Linked DNA regions of Homo sapiens. The protein of the gene in region 2 interacts with the protein of the main gene of each other region in a biochemical or structural test. Each region holds a gene or a part of one and is shown on either strand. Other genes may lie near its edges.

Region 1 (4,152 bases), about 120 Mb from region 2:
ATGACTATAATCTATTCCTGAAGCAACAGCAAACTGCCATTAGCTTGCACATTTAGCCAAATGTTCACAGGCTGGGATATTAGCAAGAACTCGTAGTAACACTTGAAATACATTCAGAACCCAATTTTATGTGCAGGAAGTTTTCTTTAAAATTTTTAAAGCTAGAATACTATTTTTGAGACAAGAACAGGACACAAGAGTATACACTGTACAGATACCTACTTCAAATTGTTACTAAGAATACATGGGATAATTCCACAACTTGGCTTTCTGTGCCTTAGATGGGACTCCTAAAAGGCTCTAAAGTGGGTCTCATATACGAAAAACATGTACTAATAGTTAAAGGATATCATATAAATGAAAATCTCATAAATTTTCAGTGTAGAGACTACCACCAATTACCTTCTCATTATTTCCTTTTGGCTTCAAATTAATTCAACAAATATTCAGGGAACACCTATTGATTTTTTTTAAGGCCATTTTGCTAGGATCTGGGGTTATAGTAATAAAGGTAAACTCCCTGCCATCAAGGCGCTCACAGTCTAATTCTGAACACCACCAAAGAAAAGAGCACATGAGGGTGACATTTCCAGCTCTAAGGCAGCAGAAGGTATGCATTATACATTTTTTGCATACCCTTCAATCAAGCAATAAAAAATCTTCCCGTTCGACCCTGTGGGAGGAGGCACTTGTGTGGTTCGGTCTGGCAGGACCACCGCCGTGTTGAAAGTCCCCCCAGACAGCTGTGCCCAGCACGGCAGTTTCGTTGGGGTCTAGGGAAAGGGCAGGGTCAGACTGGTCACAATCAGGGCTGGAGATTTTTTGGAGTCAACTCTCCCAAAGGCAATGGGGTCTACTGCTTTATTAGGAAAATGGAAAGAAAAAAGGGAGGGAAACAATGTACCCAGGCGCCCCCACCGCATTCTGATTGGACCCACTTAAGCATCTGCAGAAAACAATAAAATGAAAAAAACTCTTAGAGGTGAAACTCAAAGGTCAACCTCTGGCTGTGCGGGACAATGGGTGTCCGGCCTTCCCTTCCCTTCCCTTCCGAAGTGATGAAGGAGTTCCAATGTTCTGCGAACACTGGAAACCCCAGCGGATCCCTCTAACTCCAGGGCAGCGAAACCACTGGCAGCGGACAGAGGGAGGATTGTCGGTGTGTGAATTGCTACCCTGGGATCCGGACCCAGAGCGGCAGCCGCGCCCCTCCGCCCCCCGCGCGACCCCGGGTCCGAGGCACGCTCCCAGCGGAGCGGTCCTGCGCCCCCGCCCCCTCCAGGAGCCGCGGCGCGCACAGCCGGGCTGGAGCGCGCACCCGGCACTGAGGCTTCGCTGCTCTCGGAGCGCTCAGACCGCGGCCGCCGCAGCCGGCGAAAGAGGCAAAGTCCCGCACGCCGGAGGACATGCGCCTCGGCTAGCGGCCCCGGGCCCCACCACCGTGCGGCTTTCTCCAGATTATTCCTCTCTCGCTGTCTCTGACTGTCTCTCTCTGTCTCTGTCTCTGTCTCTCTCTCTCTCACACACACACACACACACACAAACACACATACGCACGCACGATCTCACTTCGATCTATACACTGGAGGATTAAAACAAACAAACAAAAAAAACATTTCCTTCGCTCCCCCTCCCTCTCCACTCTGAGAAGCAGAGGAGCCGCACGGCGAGGGGCCGCAGACCGTCTGGAAATGCGAATCCTAAAGCGTTTCCTCGCTTGCATTCAGCTCCTCTGTGTTTGCCGCCTGGGTGAGTGAGAAGAGCTCGGTGGGGTTTCAGCTCCGGGATCGGTGGGATGAGGGTGGGAGCATTTCAGCGTGTCCGCGACTTGCCGCCGCCGCCGCCATCTAGCCAGGAGGAAAAAGGGACAGCCAACTGGGCTCCCACGGAGCGGGCGGCCGCGCGGTGCAGGCAGCTGCGTGGGATTTGCGCGCCCCCTCCCCGCCCCGCGCCCTCGCCCCTTCCATCGGCCCGCGGGCATTCGTGCCCCGGGCCCCAGGAGACGGAGCTACTGGAGACGGAGGGCTACTCGGATCCCTGCCGCCACCGTTCTTCTCTCCTCTTTTGCAAAGTGTAGAAATCGCCTTTTAGATATACATAGGAAGATAAATGACCAGAAATACAGCTGTGGTGCGGGGCTGTGTACTGTACTGTCTTTTTTGCTGTTCATTTTTATGCTATAGGTATGATGGGCTTAAATGGAAAGTACACGTGTCTGGTGTGAATTGCAGACACACACACACACACACACACACACCTGAAAGGTAGTAACAGGCACAAGCACCAACCTGACTTTTCAGGGTTTTTTTTATTACTTTCAATTTAGTCATATTCAAGTCTGCGCAATTACTTACAAAAAAAAAAGTTCCATCTAAATCTCTAGGTTTGGTCAGTGCTGCCAAAGTCAGAGGAGAGCTGCAGGTTGATATACTTATTCACAGATTTCATTTTTCATCTGCACCCTCCAGGTTACATTTAAAACTGAAATTGCATTCAGCAATAGCCAGTTTAAGCATTCCCTTTACCTGCGATGCAGACTCAAGTTTTCCAGTCATTTTCGAGAAGTGCAAGATTGGACTTTTGCGTTTTATTAAAGAAATGCTTTTTTTCCTTCATGATTTTCCATCGCGATAGAATATAATGGGTTTACGCATTAACCTGAAAGTTACAAAGTGTTGTACTTCGCTTTGTGAGTACACATATTTAATTCTTTTCAGAGGCTCCCAATTTTTCAATTTTAGATGGTTCATAGTAGAGTAGATATTAAGCGTACATTTTCATCCAATAGATGGTGCTGCTCTTGGCACAGTAACCTTTACAAACAGAAACTATTTTTAAGTTCTAATAAATGAAAATTACATTGCAAATACGGTGATAATTGCCCATAGACCCCCACACACGGACATAATTTAAATTTCAAAGGCTTTATGAAAGTGCTTGGGGTGGTGTGATGCATAGTTGACACATAAGACATGCAAGGGAATCTCTGGTCTCCATTGATTCTAAAACCTTATAGTCAGTTCTGGAGAGGGGAAGACAGCTTTAAAAAGTACGTGGTCATCAAACATCTGTTGAATTCACATTTCTATTGTAGATCTATTTTAACAAAGAAGGCAGGTCCTCTTAGTAATTAAATTATGTAAGTAAATATCACAGTAGCAAGGAAATAAACCAGAGAGTATTGCTTTGTATGTCTTCAAAACCACATGCCCAGAGCATGTTGCGGATCTCTTTGAAAAAAAAAAAAAGATAAAATTCACACATTATACAATTCATCTTTTTAAAATGGTCCAGTGGTTTTTAATATATTCGTGAAGTTGTGCAGCCATCACCACTAATTCCAGAATGTTTTAATGACCCCAAAAAGAAACCCCATGTTCCTTAGCAGCCATTCCCCATTCTCCATGACCCCAGCTCCTAGCAACCACTAATCTACTTTCTGTCTCTATAAATTTGCCTATCCTGGACATTTCATATAAATAGAATCATGCAACTTGTGGCCTTTTCTGTCTGTCTTTGTTCACTTGGCATAATGTTTTCAGTTTCATCCATGTTATAGTATGTATAAGTACTTCATTCCTTTTTGTGGCTGAGTAATATTCCATTATGCCAATATACTAAATATATCACATTTGCAAAGGTTTTTCTCTGTAAAGCATTATTTGTAGCCTATTTTTGGTTGTATAGTTTTCAGTTTGTTGGACATTTTCTTTAAGTCTTTGGTGATGTAAAATTTAAGTGTAAAGAATTTAATTAACTTTTAAAGACTATCACAAGCTTATGTAATGCTACTGAATGTAAGCTTGCATTGGAACTCCAAGTGAGTTTTGTTGAGACTGGAAGGTGACTACTTTTGTATTCCTCACCATTTTAACAAAGTTGGCCTTTTACACAGTTGCCAACAGGCTGACCTGGAGGCATTGGCAACATCAAGTAACATAAATATCTTGATCTTGGGGCAGCATGTTTTGAAAAAGTGAGGCACATTATCTTCAAATGAAAAAGTTAGGCTCCATTTCAATTATTTTTCACTCAGCACCTACTTCAGTGTTTGTGGATGCGTTTACCCCTCATCTTCAGTGTTCTTAGAGCCAATGAGGTAGCCTGACATATGTATTAAGTGCTCAGTAAGGGTCTGTCAACTGACTAAAA
Region 2 (3,184 bases):
TAATTTTGTGTATTTTTAGTAGAGATATGGCTTCACTATGTTGGCCAGGCTGGTCTTGAACTTCTGGCCTCAGGTGATCCACCTGCCTCAGCCTCCCGAAGTGTTGGAATTACAGGCGTGAGCCCCCACGCCCTGCCTGCAGAGGTTTTAACTGACCTCCTGACATGTTTCCCAGAGACACAGGCACTGGGAACTTTTGGAAACAATTCTGCTTGAGCTGCTAGGGTGAAATGTACCCCACTAGCCACATCCCCCTTGCAGTATATATTTTGGTTTTGATGTTTTTGTATGGTGCTTGTGTGCAAGGAACAAAAAAACAAAGGTGGCTTCCAAGAGGGGCCTAGGGGAGACTGGGAAGAACTGAACAGGTTCCCAGTACTGCCCAGGTGCAATGTAAGCCATTTGATTGCAGTGGGAGAAAAAGAATCCATGAGACAGGATTAAAGCCCATTTCAGACTTTTCCAAAAAAAAAAAAAAAAAAAAGTGCAACGAGGGAAGCTGTCTGATCCAAGGATCTGTCAATCAGAGAATTTTAAAAAAGGTGAAACAGTTCACACACCCTCCCTCCCTGCCCACCACGCCACCTGCTCCTGCTCCTGGTATCCAGGTAACTCCTGCTATATGCCTAGGCACATGTAAAATGACCATTTGGGTCCCAAACACATCCCAGATTGTGTCATCTGCCCCCACACCTGCCCCGGTCTCATGACTTGCTCCAGGGAACATCACCATCCGTCCAGGTGAGAAGTCTGGCAGTTGGCCACCAGATCCTGCTCACCTCCTGCCTCAACACCTCCCCATTCTGTCTGCTCTACCTTGACCACACCTATTCCACTCCCAGGCTCCCCACTTCCAATTGGGCCACCTCTACACAGGTTTGGGTTTGTCCACTGCATGAAACCTCAATTCCGCAGTCTGACATAGGGGGTCTTCCTTCTCCAGTCCTTCCTTCCCTGCGTCTCTCCCAGGCTTCTCTCTTCCTGTGTCCCTGAAGCCAGCTTCCAAGGCCCAGGCTGGGCGTGCACATCCCCAGGGCCCCTCTACATCCGGCTTTCTGCCCTCTCGCGTCTCGCGCCTGCCTGCAGGGTCGTGCTCAAGGGTGTCGGCCCCCTCACAGGGACCCACTAGGAGCAGGATCAGAAAAAAGGTCCACATGTCCCAGGAATGTGGCCACTTTGTAATCCACCCTCCAGGCCCCCCTGACAGCCTGGGAGCGAAGTGGGAAGTGGGCCCAAGAAGCCGACAGAGCACGGTCCTCCATGTGCAGGCACACTCAGCACCTGCTCCTACAGCATCTGGCTCTGGGCCTGGGGGTAGGAACAAGGGCTGGCAGAGGAGGGCCCGACCACAGCTCGGCGGCTGAGGTAGCTGCAGGAGAGGCTGGCGGTGTGCTCAGAGCCCGGGGCACAGTGGCCCCGGACCTCGGCAGTGTCTGGGCTGCCCTCTCGGCCTCCATCTCCCTGCTCAGGCCGCAGAGGACGCGGTGTGGCCACTGTCACCAGGCCAGGGGTGAAACCATCCCGGAGCTGCGCAGGCCCTCCCCGGCCTGCAGGTCACTCAGCGCTCGCTGGGGAGGGGGAACACAGAGGTAGGGTGGTCAGTGGTCCCAGGAACCTGTGACGCCTTCCCTGTCTCTTCCCACACTAGACAGCCCATCAGGGGGTTAGGGGGACATGTCGCTCACTGGAGCCCCTTTCCCAGCCCTGGCTTCATGGAGGATCCCTTCATTTGGCCTCTGGCCCCCACCTCTCCAAAAGGGCCCCTCAGGGCTCCAGCGAGGCTCACCTCGAATTTGCTCATGAACTCTGCAAAGATGCCGAAGAAAGCCTCAGAGGTGGTGGCCTTGGAATCCTCCCCAAAGAAGGCCAGCGCCTTGCCCAGCTCCTCCATGGCCTCGCGCTGCAGCCCGTCGAGCGCCCGAAGTGCTGGCTGGGCCGTCTCCAGGAAGGACTGACAGGCCTCAGTTAAGGAAACAGCCAGCCCGCTTGTGCCCCCAGGGTCTCAGGTGGTGGCCCGACAGACAGGTCCCTAGCAGCCCTATTCCCGGTTGGCCTGAGTCCTTCCAAGGGCCAGGCCCTGTGTCCAACAGGGAACCAGGCCCTGTTCAGGGACTCTAGTCCCACTGGCCACTGAACTCATCCTGGAACTGGCCACAGCCAGTGCAGCCTCAGGCCATTCACCCCTGTTCTCTCTGCAGGGCCAGGCCCTGGGTCTCTGATCAGAGGCTTCCACTGCCACCTTCTTCCCCAACCACTCATTTACAGTAGGCCCCTCTGTCACTCTCTAGGCCTTACTTTTTTTTTTTTTTTTTTTTTTTTTGAGACAGGGTCTTATTCTGTCGCTCAGCCTGGAGTGCAGTGGTGTGATCACAGCTCACAGATCATTCCAGCCTCTACCTCCCAGGCTCAAGTGATCCTCCCACCTCAGCCTCCCGAGCAGCTGGGACCAGAGGTTTACACCACCATACCCAGCTAATTTTTTGATTTTTAAAATAGAGATGGGGTGTATGTTGCCTAGGGTGGTCTCAAACTCCTGGGCTCAAGTGATCCTCCCACTTTGGCCTCCCAAAGTGCTGGGATTACAGGTGTGAGCCACTGCACCTGGCCTTAGGCCTTACTCTGTTTTCTAGAGCATTTGTCATGATCTGAAATTGTTCATAAGTTCATTTCCTACTGCCTAAGTGAAAGCTCGCTCCCTCCTTGCACCTCCAGGGCTTAGAATAGCATCTGATACATGGTCAGTCTTGCAAAAAGATTCAGTGGCTGAATCGCTATCATTTTTTCAGCACTTAAAATGGTGCCGAGCTTTGTTCCAAGCTTGTTGAATCATCGTTTAACACCTCTATGAGGTAGATTATCTCTATTTTACATGTGAACAAATTAAAGCACACAGGACTTTAGCAACTAGCCCAAGATCACACAGCAAGCACTGTGGTGCCTGAGCCACGGTTGAACCCACCAGGGTCACATCAATTAATGACCACTGTGGTAGAGGTTCTCATGACCCCTCTTTTTCCTGATGAGAAAACTGGGCTCACAGAGGGTAACTGACTTGCCCATAGTCCCACAGCAGGTAAGGAAATGAGCCAGGATTTGGGCCTATGCCTGTCTGATGTGCCAGGTCAATTTCCTTTGCAGAGGCTGCCTTTAATTAATTAATTAATTAATTTTGAGACAGAGTCTC
Region 3 (3,500 bases), on a different chromosome or scaffold from region 2:
TTGTGGTTACAGGAAGGACAAAAAGTAAATAAGCCCATAATGTCGTGTACATTCAGAATTTTTATTTTAAAACAAAGAACCAGAGTAACAATAGAAAATCCATATGGAAATATTCACAATCTTCTCAGTGAGAAATGGGACCCTGCCTTACTGCCAACCTACTGTTTGAGGAGCCAGAAGTTGACATGAAGTTGCAAGGTCACCTTTTCAAGCTAAAGCACACTTGATAGCTATGTGCATTTTTTTTTTTTTGAGACGGAGTCTCGCCCTGTGGCCCAGGCTAGAGTGCAATGATGCGATCTCCGCTCACTGCAACCCCTGCGTCCCGGGTTCACATGATTCTCCCGCCTCAGCTTCCCAAGTAGCTGGGATTACAGGCGCCCGCCACCACGCCCGGCTAATTTTTGCATTTTTAGTAGAGACAGGGTTTCACGATGTTGGCCAGACTGGTCTCGAACCCCTGACCGCCCGCCTAGGCCTCCCAAAGTGCTGGGATTACAGGCGTGAGCCACCGCATCCGGCCTCAGCTACGTGCATTTTTATTCAAAGGCTCCAGGAGCAGAGGGAACAGTGAGAACTAAGAACCAAAATACTGTCACTGACAAGGGTTTGGCTAAAGGGTCTGAGATGTGTAAGCACCAAGAAGGGAAAGGGAGACTGAGCAACATATGAAAAAGGGGCTGTAGGAACAAACACAGAGAAAATAAGTCAACAATAACGTACTTCCACCCAGAGCAAAGTGACAGTGCACATACATTCATCCTCTCAAGTGTGGGCTACACTGCACATTGACTCATACTGTCTAAACCTGGTTTATTGGAAAGATTCAAGTCCCCTGAGGGCATTCGGCATAGGACCACAGTGACATGGTAACAGACATACGCAAGCGTGCCGTGAGCCTAAAGCAACAACACACTTTAGATAATAATCGCTCAGAAAAAAATCCTCTCCCAGAGCTGAGGTTACAAATTCCAAGTTTGCTATAAACATTCTTTGGGGAATTCCTTTAAAGGTATGAGTTAAAATACAACAGAAAATCAACACCTAAAATCTCCTAAAGAACAAAGTGGAAAAATAATGAATCTCTACCAAGAACCAATTATTTTAGGTTTCTTATTTGGATGGCTCTCCCACGAGATAGGTGGCGGGATTACTTCAAAAGTAATGAGACTACTACAAGAAGGAGTTATTTCATCCAGTGAGGGGAACAGGCTTTCTAGAAATCACTTTCTCTTCCCTGGACTCCATCCAAAATTAGAACCCATCAACCATCATTAACTACAATGCCCATATTAGTTAATAATCCTAGATTTCAAGTACTACTACATGTAAACTATTATCTTAAAGAAAAAAGCTCCAAAGGAAATCAGTAGCTTTATTATATAGGTATATGACTTTTACGAGAAGTTAAAGAGTTTCCATCTGAAGGACAGAAATTGTTAAGAGGTAACGTACAGACCTCAGGCACCACATCATTTACCCTCCAATAATGAACAACATTTCTCCCTAAATTCTTATTGCACCTTAACCTCTCCAGCATCAAATCTTCTACTCTATAACCTCTCTTTAAACACCTCCCTCTAATCTCAATTTCCTTCTGTTTTTATTATTTGGCAAAATTACGCTTAAAAAAATAAATATTTCCATCATGGCATATATATACCTATGTAACAAACCTGCACATTCGGCACATGTATCCTGAAACTTAAAGTTAAAAAAAAAAAATTATGTAATTAAACCAGAGGATAAAATAAATAAAACTCAAGTTAATTTGCCACGTAGAGCTGTATGGAAGTGAGGAAGGTGCTCTTACATAAACACCCTCCGGCTTCCACACTCATATGTATCTGCTTCCTGGTAAGTCTGAGGTTGGGGGAACTGCACCTTACTTTTCCTCTCCTATATCCCCTAGTGCGGCAATATCAGAACCCAAGGGAGGAAAAGCTGGCAAAGTTGTCATGTGCCAAGCGGCCAATCCCTCCTGAAATGAAGGTAGGTTCACTCGGTCTCTCCTAAGCAGAAGAGGATGTCCAGGAAATAAAATTTAAAAAGCCATTGAAGATCCAACAAACCGCAGCCTTGGGGTGCTCATGGAGTGCGTGGGATGAGAAAGGAATTAAGTAGCAGCATTCAGAAGCGTCCTGGGTTCATCCTGATGAGGTCTCTCCCTTGTTGAGGGAGAGGTGGCTTTCCCATGCCGGGAGGGAGGTGGAAGGAGGCACGACTTAGACATTGGTGGTGGTCTCCTTAGCAGGCTCGATGCTGTTCATCTCCATGACGCCGTCCTTTCCAGATCTATCTGCACCGTGTGCCTGCCCTTCAAAGGCCCGTGTGATATCCTCAAAAGTCCTGCCACGGGTCTCAGGGACTTTGAAGAAGGTAAAAGCCAAGAAGGTAATGAGGAAGCCGGTGAAGATAATAAAAACGTAGGCTCCTAAATAGTGCTAGAGAAAGGACAGAAAAAAGGAAGGTTGATATAAAAATCTGGTCATTGACAAAGTCAATTTCCTTCACATTCATATTTCCAATAGGCTTCAAGCTATAACCCTTCCATATTTAATGAAAACAGGTTTCTTCAGATTCGCTTATGATTCCATTGCTAACTTACTGTAGTTCTCTCTAGTTTTCTTTCTGTCATTCCATTTCATTACAGTTAGATGCTTCCAAATGTCTACTGAGTATTTTTGGACTTTTGAGTATTATTTTTAAAATCTGTGTTTCTGGGCCGAGTGCGGTGGCTCACGCCCATAATCCCAGCACTTTGGGAGGTCAAGGTGGGAGGATCACTGGAACCCAGCAGTTTGAGACTAACCTGGGCAACTCCATCTCTATTTATGAATTTTTTTTTTTTTGAGACGGAATCTCGCTCTGTCACCCAGGCTGGAGAGCAGAAGGTTGATCACAGCTCACCATGAACACCTCCTGGGTTTAAGTGATTCTCTTGCCTCAGTCTTCTGAGTAGCTAGGACTACAGGTGTGTGCTACCGCAATGGTGTGATCTCGCTCACTGGGATTACAGTCATGAGCCACGACACCCGGCCTAATTTTTGTATTTATTGTAGAAACAGGGTTTCACCATGATAGTCAGGTTGGTCCCCAACTCCTGACCTCAAGTTATCCACCCGCCTAGGCCTCTCAAAGTGCTGGAATTACAGGCTTGAGCCACTGTGTCTGGCCGCAAATTAAACTTTATGAATTATTTATTTCTGCAATTTTCCATTTAATATTTTTAGACTACAGGTAACTGAAACTGAAGAAGAGGAGGGACTGCTGTATTTTTTTATTTATTTAGGGATGGAGTCTTGCTTCCATCGAGCAGGCTAGAGTGCAGTAACGCGATCTCAGCTCGCTGCAACCTCCACCTCCCAGGTTTAAGCGATTCTCCTTCCTCGATCTCCCAAGTAGCTGGAATTACAGGCATGCACCACCATGCCCAGCTAATTTTTGAATTTCACCATGTTGGCCAGGCTGGTCTTGAACTCCTGACCTCAGGTGATCCA
Region 4 (3,500 bases), on a different chromosome or scaffold from region 2:
CCACCCGCCTCGGCCTCCCAAAGTGCTGGGATTACAGGCGTGAGGCACCGCGCCCGACCCCTGGACACATTTTGACTTAGAACATATTTTCGGTTTGTGTGAGACAGTGCATTAGTGCAGGATTGGAAAAGAGTGATCAGGAATTGATTGTTTTCAAGGATTGGTTCCTTCTGCTCAAGGAAGTCCCATTGTAAACATAAAAAAATGAATGAAACTGAAGAAGTTCAGTGACTTAGCTTTTTATTATCTTCTGTAGTACTTACCTTTTTGGAGAGGAGTTGGTTGGGATATTTTTCCATTTAAATTTTTTTTTTAAAGGGATCTTCTCTCCCGTAAGCCGGGATACTTAAGCTATATATGTAGTGGCTACAAATTAAGGTCTTCACTGTTTTCATTTTTAGCTGCTAGAATAAGTGAACATTACCTTAGATAGACTCTTCTAATTATGAAGATATCTAGATGTCTAGAAAATATCAAAATGCATGTGGTTTTTGCATTTCTAAAATACTTTTAAAACCAAATACTTTTTCTTTTTTTTTTTTTTCTGAGATGGAGTCTTGCTCTTTTGCCTAGGCTGGAGCGCAGTAGAATGATCTTGGCTCACTGCAACTTCCGCCTCTCAGGTTCAGGTGATTCTCCTGCCTCAACCTCCTGAGTAGCTGGGATTACAGGTGCGTGCCACCACACCCGGCTAGTTTTTGTGTTTTTAGTAGGGACAGGGTTTCACCATGTTGGCCAGGCTGGTCTCAAGCTCCTGACCTCAAGTGATCTGCCAGCCTCAGCCTCCCAAAGTGCTGGGATTACAGGCATGAGCCACCACACCTGGCCTCAAATACATTTTTTTAAGTATCCAGATATTAAATAAATAATACCATTATAGTAGTTGTTATGGTCATTTACTCTAGCATCAAATGTTAAAAGATCATTCTGAACACTTGTTTTGTTTATGCTGAGAGAAGGCCTACTCCAAAAAATGCAACCATCTTCGTATCTGCATGTGGATACAACCATGAATGGCCAAAGTTATTGCAGTGTTGAATAGACACTTATATAGCACTGTGTGGCAAGTACTGTTTGAAATGTTTTTCACGTGTTTATTCATTGTATTTATTTTGAGATAGGGTCTTGCTCTGTTGCACAGGGTGGAGTGCAGCTGCACAGACAAGGCTCACTGCAACCTCAGCCTCCTGCGCTCACGTGATCCTCATACATCAGCCTCTTAAGGAGCTGGGGCCACAGGCACGCACCACTGCTCCTGGCTAAATTTTTACAATTTTTTGTAAAGACAAGGTCTCACTATCTTGCTCAGACTGGTCTTGAACTCCTGGGCTCAAGTGATCCTCCCACATCAGCCTCCCAAAGTGCTGGGATTACAGGCATAAGCCACTGTGCAGGTCATCAAATGCTAATTGAATTTTCACAACAAAACCATTTATTGTCCCTAGTTTACAAGATTAAGTAAATGAGAAGCTAATTTTTCTCTGGCTATATACCTTGCAAGAGGCAGAGCTAAGACTTGAACCCAGCCAGAGTTCTTTAACTCCAGCACTAACATTTCAGCTGCTGCAACCAGGGAGCTTTTCAAGGATGATCACCACATTCTCTACATTCATCTGCTATAATCCTTATCAGAATCTACAGCCTGTATCATATTTTCCTTGTTGCTGTGAGTGGGTCAGCCAAATTCTCTTTAACTTGAAACCTTGGTTGCGTAGGGATTGCAACATCCTGGAAAGAATAGAATAAAATTTACTCAACTCAATTTTTTACTTGGTTCATAATGAAAACTATACTATTGCTTCAGTCAGATGTTTGCGAATAGCTGTGTGATCTCAAAATGTTTTCCTATGTGATCTATAGAAAATGGAATGATAGAGTATTAGGCTGTAAGGGCCTAAGAAACAAAGGAAAAAGAGAAGTGAACTGTTAGTTTAGTTGTAAAACCTAACTTTGGTGAATTGTAAAAATTTGTTATAATACAATATGATTCTTGCTTGTCCTGTCCTTGATGAAGTTGTGGACCTTTTGAAATAAGCTATTTCTCTGTTACTGCTGTTACTGTTTAGAAATCAAATTTAGTTTTTTCTTAAGATATACGTATTTTTGGAAGATAAACACAGTTTCAAAGTCTGCCTTGTTGGCTGGGTGCACTGGCTCATTGTTGTATTCCCAGCACTTTGGGAGGCCAAAGCAGGAGGATCACTTGAGGTCAGGAGTTCAAGACCAGCCTGGCAAATATGGTGAAACCCCGTCTCTACTAACAATACAAAAATTAGCTGGGCGTGGTGGTGGGTGCTTGTAATCCCAGCTACTGGGATTGGGAGGCTGAAGTAGAAGAATTGCTTGAACCTGGGAGGCGGAGGTTGCACTGAGTCGAGATCGTGCCACTTTACTCCAACCTGGGCGACAGAGTGAGACTCCGTCTTGAAAAAAAATGTCTGCCTTGTAAAAGTGAAATAGGATGAGAAAGTGCCTTTCTTATTAATTGGTGTAATGAATTAGAAATAAACTCTTTGAAGACACCTCTTGGTAAAAATAGTTACATTTACTGTTGATTTATGGTATGTTGGATATGTTTTTAAGTTTTCCGTGTAATAACTCAGTTCATTCTCATGAGTGAAATAGGTGCTTTTATTGTCTTTATAGATGGGAAACTGAGGTATAGGCAGGCTAGGTACATTATTATGGAGTTCGTAAGTAGTGGAGCTGAAGTCGCATCCCAGACAGTTTGGCTTCCGTGAGTTTACCAATCTCATGGTAAAGACTTTGTCAGACTATCAAAGTTTTGACAAATGAAATATTAGCAAAAGGCCAAAAGGGATTCTCTATTTTCATTTGAGTATCTTCACCTGAAAATAGTTGCCTGAATAAGTAGCCTGCATAGAAAGGTACATTTTAGAAATACTTGAGGCCAGAGAATGAAAAGCTTACATAAAATTGATTTCCGGTGGGGCCTTCAGTTACTCTCCATTCTACGAAGACCACAAATAGCATTCAGGCAAAGAGCATTTATTCCAACAATGGAGGAGCACTGGATTTGGTTCCTAAAACAAAATAAAGTTTGAAATCCTGTCTTTCCCATGTTGAAAACAAAGTTGGTACAAAACCCTTTAGCTTTTGCAAACCTCCTTTAAGACCCGATTTAAATGCTTCCCTCCTCATGAAGCTCTTCTGGATCCACTCCTTCCCATCACTAAGTTGAAAGTAAGATCCCCTTCTCTTTACTTCCATTAGACTTGGATTACAGCACTCTTTGTATCATGTATTTAATTCTGTTTTTTAATTACAGTTAACATTTATTTGTCTTCCTCTTGAGTGTATGCTTCTCTAGAGGAAGGTCTTTGATTCATTCTCCCCTGGCCTTAATTCATCCCACTTAATATGGAAAAAATTTAATAAATGCTGACTTGAATAAGTCCAACAAGGAGAATGGGAAGCTCATGTTTGCTTCCTGTCTTCTAAAAGACTACTTAAGATAACAGGGTAATCACAGAAAAGCA

Evidence for each region. Proteins that work in one complex are often made in the same cells at the same time.
Region 1: the proteins of GRID2IP (region 2) and PTPRZ1 interact in a test that uses a peptide from one of them, tested with the Homo sapiens proteins (one large-scale study listed by IntAct).
Region 3: the proteins of GRID2IP (region 2) and SLC2A3 interact in a test that uses a peptide from one of them, tested with the Homo sapiens proteins (one large-scale study listed by IntAct).
Region 4: the proteins of GRID2IP (region 2) and ABCA1 interact in a test that uses a peptide from one of them, tested with the Homo sapiens proteins (one large-scale study listed by IntAct).

Annotation. Positions count from the first base shown.
Region 1 is NC_000007.14:121,871,809-121,875,960, forward strand, and holds the start of PTPRZ1 (receptor-type tyrosine-protein phosphatase zeta isoform 1 precursor), read left to right. Parts: upstream 1-1,352; 5' UTR 1,353-1,691; coding exon 1,692-1,749; intron 1,750-4,152. UniProt on the Homo sapiens protein: Protein tyrosine phosphatase that negatively regulates oligodendrocyte precursor proliferation in the embryonic spinal cord. Required for normal differentiation of the precursor cells into mature, fully myelinating oligodendrocytes.
Region 2 is NC_000007.14:6,496,278-6,499,461, forward strand, and holds the end of GRID2IP (delphilin), read right to left. Parts: intron 1,952-3,184; coding exon 1,787-1,951; intron 1,569-1,786; coding exon 1,497-1,568; 3' UTR 501-1,496; downstream 1-500.
Region 3 is NC_000012.12:7,919,188-7,922,687, forward strand, and holds the end of SLC2A3 (solute carrier family 2, facilitated glucose transporter member 3), read right to left. Parts: intron 2,445-3,500; coding exon 2,226-2,444; 3' UTR 43-2,225; downstream 1-42. UniProt on the Homo sapiens protein: Facilitative glucose transporter. Can also mediate the uptake of various other monosaccharides across the cell membrane. Mediates the uptake of glucose, 2-deoxyglucose, galactose, mannose, xylose and fucose, and probably also dehydroascorbate.
Region 4 is NC_000009.12:104,921,656-104,925,155, reverse strand, and holds part of ABCA1 (phospholipid-transporting ATPase ABCA1), read left to right. Parts: intron 1-2,613; exon of another isoform or gene 2,614-3,044; intron 3,045-3,500. UniProt on the Homo sapiens protein: Catalyzes the translocation of specific phospholipids from the cytoplasmic to the extracellular/lumenal leaflet of membrane coupled to the hydrolysis of ATP.